Homo sapiens: one gene and its partner. The protein of the gene in region 2 interacts with the protein of the main gene of each other region in a biochemical or structural test. Each region holds a gene or a part of one and is shown on either strand. Other genes may lie near its edges.

Evidence for each region.
Region 1: the proteins of NR1H4 (region 2) and NCOA6 form a complex in vitro, tested with the Homo sapiens proteins (one study listed by BioGRID).

Annotation. Positions count from the first base shown.
Region 1 is NC_000020.11:34,818,854-34,822,677, forward strand, and holds part of NCOA6 (nuclear receptor coactivator 6), read right to left. Parts: intron 2,787-3,824; exon of another isoform or gene 449-2,786; intron 1-448. UniProt on the Homo sapiens protein: Nuclear receptor coactivator that directly binds nuclear receptors and stimulates the transcriptional activities in a hormone-dependent fashion. Coactivates expression in an agonist- and AF2-dependent manner.
Region 2 is NC_000012.12:100,508,137-100,511,960, reverse strand, and holds part of NR1H4 (bile acid receptor), read right to left. Parts: intron 1,184-3,824; coding exon 818-1,183; intron 1-817. UniProt on the Homo sapiens protein: Ligand-activated transcription factor. Receptor for bile acids (BAs) such as chenodeoxycholic acid (CDCA), lithocholic acid, deoxycholic acid (DCA) and allocholic acid (ACA).

The DNA of each region.
Region 1 (3,824 bases), on a different chromosome or scaffold from region 2:
TCGTCCAACCACTCTCTTAGACAACAGCTCCACAATACAAGTAAAAAGAGTTCTTCTACAGTATTTCATAAAGCTGGCCAGCTAATTTTCTATCACCAATGTGGTAATTTCTAATACAGTACTTAATACATAGTAGATGCCTAAATATTCAAGGAGCTAAGCTGAATTTCACCTCATCTTTTAATTTCATTTATCATTCTATTCATTATGATCAAGTATGGCTCATCCTTAGAAATAGGTTTTAGTATTTACTTGCCCACAAACTCATCTGTCAATTTCTGGCCATCCCCCCCACCATCCCAATATGTCATTTACTGGTTTGGGGGAGACAATATTCAATACCTCAATAAAGTAAGAATCAGAAAATTAAATGTCTGCAGGGCCATAAAAATAAAGAGCAAAGCAAGACAGCAAGGCAGACTATGGAGAACTAGGAAACACATCTCACCTAAAAGTTTCAGCTGGTTACCGCTATAAATGAATATGGGCTTGCTGTTGACAGATCTTCCAATTTTTCAAGGTTAAGTCAGAAACTCAGAGGTCTGTGTACATTTTTAAGACATTAAAAATATTGTGTAAACCAAACAAAATACTTATACAGGTCAAATCCAACCACAGGTTGCCAGTTTGCAACCTCTGCTACAGAAGTTCTCTGCAAAAGTGATGGCGTGAGAAGAGTTCTATCCTAGCAGATAATCTAAGGCAGCCCCTAAAACTAAGTAGCTCCTTGGAAGCATCTCCTGCAACACTCAGCCCAACTCTCACCATTCTGATTGACCTGAAAACCAAATTAATTTGGCAATTTAATTGAGCAAAATGAGCCCCTGCTCTGTACCAGGTGCTGAGGAATCAGAAATGAACAGTAGTGCTAAAGTACAGCTAATATTTATTGAGCATGTTCTAGGTGCCAAGCACTGTTTTACACGTTATGTATATTGACTCATTTAATCCTCACAAAACCCTATGAGATTACTATTATCCTTAAAGACTGAGGCGCAATGAGGTTTTATTTGTCCAAGGTCACACAATCAGCAAGCAGCAGTGCTTAATAAGGACCTGAGACAGACTCCACCAAAAAGAGCTCACAATTTGAAAGCAAGCCCCATTCAATAAATGATGCTGGGATCACTGGTTATACATAGGGAAAAAAAATGAAACTGGACCCGACCTTACACTACACATAAGAATCCATTCCAGATACATTAAAGATCTAACCATTGAAAACAACAGTAGGTATTCCAGAATATAAAGAATAATTGCAGGCTGGGCACAGTAGCTCACACCTGTAATCCCAGCACTTTGTGGACTGCTTGAGCTCAGGAGTTCCAGACTAGCCTGGGCAACATGGCGAAACCCCGCCTCTACAAAAAATGCAAAAAGTAGCAGGGCATGGTGGCGCATGCCTGTGGTCTCAACTGGCATGGGAGGTGGGAGGGTTGCTTGAGCCCAGGAGGTTGAGGCTGCAGTGAGCCGAGATCGCACCACTGCACTCCAGCCTCGGTGACAGAGCGAGACCCTGCCTCAAAACAAAGAATAACTGCAAATCTTAAAGGAAAAGATTGATAAAGTTGATACTAAAATTCAGAACTTTTTAACAAATGACACCTTAAAACAGATGTTTTAAAATAAGCAACAGGCCAGGCGCAGTGGCTCACACCTGTAATCCCAGCACTTTAGGAGGCCAAGACGGGTGGATCACTTGAGGTCAGGAGTTTGAGACCAGCCTGGCCAACATGATGAAACCCCATCCCTACTAAAAACACAAAAATCAGCCAGGTGTGGTGGCACATGCCTGTAGTCCCAGCTACTTGGGAGGCTGAGGCAAGAGAATCACTTGAACCTGGGAGACGGAGGTTACAATGAGCTGAGATGGCACGACTGCACTCCAGCCTGGGCGACAGAGCAAGACTTCATCTCAAAAAAAAAAAAAAAAAAATTAAAATAAGCAAGAAACTGGGAAATGACATCTGTAATATCTACCAACAACAAAGGATTAATAATCAGAATATATAAATAAATCTTTTGTAAAAGACAACCCAATAAAAAAAATGGCAAAACAAGCCCGAGCATTATCTAATCCGTGTAAAGCTGGCACTACCACAGTTACCACACAGTACACTCCAGAACAATAGACCTTGCCATCACTGACTGATATAAATATTCAGGGGTCTGTGTTATGCTGCAGGTACACAGAGCATGGGTAATCCAGCCCAAAGGGCAGAGCCAAGACGTTTATTCATTCTCTATCATCATATAGACATTGGATGGCAAATTAGAGGTTGAACATCCAACACTCAAACACATAGATCAGGGGTTGGCAAATGTTTTTGTAAAGAGTATTTCCAGCTTTGTGAGCTGACACAACACATCTCTGTCACGACTACTCAACTCTGCTATTGGTACCACAAAAGAAGATATGGACAATATATAAATAAATGAGTGTGGCTATGTTCCAATAAAACGTTATTTACAAAAACAGATCGTGGGCCAGATTTGACCTATGGACCACAGTCTGTCGACCTCTGACATAGATAGTTGTGCTTTTTCTACACTATAGGTAGGACACTTCCCATGTTTTCCCCTGTCTTTTATGTCTGCTGACACCTCTGATTTCCTTAACCAAAAACTACACCACACTTGACAGCTTTGCAATGGTTTCCAAAACTCTATTACTCTGCCAAAAAAACCTTTTCGCCCTTATTATCAATGAGAATTCTCCCCTCATTTTCCTTTCACTTTTTTTTTTTTTTTTGAGACGGAGTCACGCTCTGTTGCCTGGGCTGGAGTGCAGTGGTGCGATCTCGGCTCACTGCAAGCTCCGCCTCCCGGGTTCACACCATTCTCCTGCCTCAGCCTCCCGAGTAGCTGCGACTACAGGCGCCCGCCACCACGCCCGGCTAATTTTTTGTATTTTTAGTAGAGATGGGGTTTCACCATGTTAGCCAGGATGGTCTCGATCTCCTGACCTCGTGATCCGCCCGCCTCGGCCTCCCAAAGTGCTGGGATTACAGGCGTGAGCCAACACGCCCAGACTTCCTTTCACTTTTTTAAACCTCTTTGACAGACACCACCCCAAACCAGAAATTTAAAAAACTCCCCCTAAGCCACTCACAATGTCAATAATCAACACCTGCAAATTCTAACTCCACTCAATGCCCACAGCCTCTGCCTTAGTTCAGATCCTCATTACTTCTAACTCTGCTCAGTGCCCACAGTCTCTGCCTTAGTTCAGATCCTCATTACTTCTAACTCTGCTCAGTGCCCACAGTCTCTGCCTTAGTTCAGATCCTCATTACCTCTCTGGTCTTCAGTCTACCCTCCTTCCAAAGAACATCCATTTATCTCCTAGAAATTAAACCTCCACCACATACTCCCCTTCTCGAAGATCTTGAATGCCTCTCTCAGCTAAGGATTCAGTCCAAACTCCTTAGCAAGGTCCTTCACAACCAGGTTCCTAACATGGTCTTCCTAGTCTCATCTCTGGCCATGCTTTCACACACATTCTATGCTCCAGCCACATTCAGTTATTAATACATTCCCTGAAAACGTGTCTTTACCTGAAAGGCCCTTCTCTCCATTTCACTGGCAAATTCCTGTATCTTTTAGGACACATCTCAAATGTCACCCCTTCGCAACACCTTCCCTGATTCTTTGAGCAGACACACCCATCTCCGTGTCCTTATAGCGTTTAATAACTCTTCTTTGGCATCGACCATCCTGAACTATGATTGTTCACATGTCTACTTCACTCATGGGGCTGCATACCCAAAGTGAAGTGACTCTGCCTTAAAAACTTCTGAAGCTACAGAGCCCAGTATAATGCT
Region 2 (3,824 bases):
ATGCCTAGGCTAAATAAAAAAAAAAAAAATTATTTTTTGAGATGGATTTTCGCTCTTGTTGCCCAGGCTGGAGTGCAATGGTGCGATCTTGGCTCACTGCAACCTCCACCTCCCAGGTTCAAGCGATTCTCCTGCCTCAGCCTCCTGAGTAGCTGGAATTACAGGCACCTGCCACCACACCCAGCTAATTTTTGTATTTTTAGTAGAGACGAGATTTCACCGTGTTGGCCAGGCTGGTCTTGAACTCCTGATCTCAGGTGATCTGCCTGCCTCGGCCTCCCAAAGTGCTGGGATTACAGGCATGAGCCACCATGCCAAGTTAAAATATTTTTTTGTAATATAAGCTATTATTACTTGGCTCTTTCTTTCTCTCTTTCTCAATTAACTAAAGTACATGAAAAATATTTTTAAATATTTATTGAATAAAGTTGTATTCTTCTAGATCTTAATTTTAAAAGAGATGTGTTCATCACTTTCTTCTTTCTTTTTTAAAAAAACAACAAAAACAAACAAAACCTACAAAAAATTCAATTTAATCATAAGTTCCCTTTAGCTACGTGTGAGGTTGTGAAAAGGAAGAAAGCTAAACACTCTAAGCTAGATACTCTAACAGTCTTAAACATTAAGCTAAATACTCTAACAGTCTTTTCCTACAGATCTTTGACTACACAACAAAGGTGAGGATGTAGGAGGAGGTAGGCGCACAGGAGGAGAAAATGGGAAGTTGCCTGGGAAAAGGGAAGCAATTAGTTCAAGGGATTTCAACAACCAATATAGTAAAACCTGAAGGAGAAAACTGCCAATCAAAGATGCTTACCTTTACACCCCTCACAGGTCAGTGCATTATAGTGGTATCCAGAGGCTCTGTCTCCACAAACAACACACAGCTCATCCCCTTTGATCCTCCCTGCTGACGCGCCCATGCGGGGCTTCTTTGTTACAGGCATCTCTGCTACCTCAGTTTCTCCCTGGTAGAGAGTCTCAGCTGGCATACGCCTGAGTTCATATATTCCAGGAGAGTACCACTCTTCAGGCTGCTGGGGGTAGAAACCCAGGTTGGAATAATAGGATGACGAGGAAATCTGTGGTTGAACTTGGGGAAACTGAACATTGCTGTATTGCGAGTATGGTTCCACTTCCAGGTTCTGTCCCAGAGGACCTGCCACTTGTTCTGTTAAAACACCTGAACAAAAGTGACAACAAAACTGGAATGAATGTCATCATTCTGGAAATTAGAGAGGCAGTTTGGCGTAATGGTTAGGAGTGTGGGCTCTAAGAAAAGATTGAAACATTTAACTACATAAAAGTTTACAACTTCTTTAGAGTATATATATATATATATATATATATATAAAATTAAATGACAAATTAAAAATTCAGAAAAATATCTGCAACATAGAGGACAGACTCATCTCATTAATGTATAAAGAGCTCCTGAAAACCAATAAGAAAATATTTGAGAAGCTATGGAAAAAGGGATAAAGGAAAGGAATAGTCAATGTTAGAAATATAACCGTGTTTTGTAAACAGAAAAATGTGCTCACCTTTGCCAATAATTAAATTTAAATTGAAACTAAAACATTACAGTTTTCATCTTCAAATGTGTGAGGGTTTAAAAAGTTTAATAATACACACTGTTGGGGAAACAAATATTTTTGGGGGGAAATTTGTCAATATTTTCCAGTTTTTTAAACTTCAATGTCCTTTTCACCCAGCATAAATTTTCCACTGCTTGAAAATTTATTTTAGAAATATGCTTGAACCTCTATGAAAAAGTATTTTGTAAAAATATTCACTTGCAGCACATTCGCAAGAGCCATAAATTGGAAACGATCTAAATATTCATCCATAGGAGTCTGCTTCAATAAATTTGTTACATCCATACACTATTAAGTAGATGTAAAACAATTATTTAGATTTCTATGTGCTGTTATGGAAATTTTCTACAATATGGTGCTATATGAAAAAGGTAAGCTATAGACCAATGTGTATATTCACATCGGTATTAAACACCAACTCTGTGTGTGTGTGTGTGTGTGTGTGTGCGCGCACGTGCCCACGTGCAAAGACAAATTTCTGCATGATACAGAAGAAAGTAGGTGGTGGTGACTGTGAGAGGTGATATTTTTACATTATATTCTGGGATAGAAGATTGCATAATTTTTTTTACTGTTTGTAGTTTTTGCCATGTGTATATGTATGTGTTATTTTAATCATTATAAAACAAAGGAGGAGCTTTAAAAAAAAGAATACAGTGCCTGCAATCTATCTACTGGATTCAAATTCCTGCTCTGTTACTTACAATCTGTGTGCAGCTGGCAATTCCTTAATGTCTTTAAGTTGCAGTCTTCTTCTAATAAAACAGAGAATAATAACACCTACCTCATTGGGTTGATGTAAGGATTATATGAGATAATGTGTGCCAAGTGCTTTGCTAAATGTTTGGCACACAGAAGTGCTCGATAAATTATAGCTGACTTAAAATAGGAATAATAACAATTATTCTTACTACCATCATTATTAAAGGAGTCCCTTATTTAGAAAACCTCTAGGTAATAGAAAATCATCAGGTTATGAAAATGCTTCTATTTCCTGGAAACATCAACTATGGCTCTTTAGAAAATAAAAAATTGAAATTATGCAAATGCTGAAAAAATAGACATAAATAAGAGATAGGAAAGTTTACAAATGTGTCTGACTCTTCAAAGTGTTGTCAGACAATTCTAGACCAAAATTCCAATTCCATCTCTTATGAACAGTGGGATTTTGAGCAAATTATTCAAACTATTGATAAATCTTGGTTTTCATGGCAGCAAGGTTGGGATGATAATATCGATATCAAGAGTTAGTCTGAGGATTGAGTGAGATGATACAGATTCACAGTTCCTTATCTGAAACCCTGGCAGTCGTATGTGTTTTAGAAGTCAGAATTTTCAGGATTTCAGAACAGAATACAGTGCTATTTATATATCCCTCCCAGCACAGTCTGGAACAGAACCCAGAATCAAATACAGCAATATTTTCCACAGGGAAACGTATGAATATTCACAGCAAGTGCAATAAGTAAAGACCATAAATAGTTTCACATTCATTCAGGTCAGGTTCTGTCACCAAAAAAGTGTGTGCCAAACTTTTAGAAAAACGTGGTTTTTTGGGGCTTTGGGGATTTCAAATTGGCAATGCTCTTTGCTGTGCTCAAAAGATAGTTGAAACGATTACTATAATTATTATGATTACTATTACCACATTTTGCAGAAAACTTTTATAGAGTTCTTCGTAGTAGCAGGCACTTGTATGTTCTCATTTATTCCTCACAAAACTCTATGAGGTGGGTAACATTATTAACCCCCACTTACAAATGAGTACCATGAGGCACATAGTAGTTAAGCAACTTTACTCCTACCTACCTAAGTAGATGAGACTTGAGCTCTAGGAGTCTAATCTCAAAGCCCATGCACTGAATTGCTGCTCTCTGGGGGTAATTTCAGGTGTGTGATACTTAAAAACATGATCTTCAAAGCCCCTCTCTGCATCCTCCTACTTGTGTTTGTTACCCCCTTCTCGGCCTCCGCTTGCACATAACCTATAACTGGGCCTGCAAGCTTCTGCATGACTCTACCCTTGCTTTCTTTTCCAGCCATTTTGCATGTTCGGACATCTCTGTTTCTTGAATGTGCCTTGCCGCTTCCAGACTCAGGACTTCTCCCACCTGCTGCTTCCTGAGCCTGAAATGGTTCTCAACACAGCCAACCCCTTCCAGGGCTTCATCTCACTAATGTCCACTTACCTCTAAATTCCCTGTGGGTATTGCTTCTCTTGGGAAG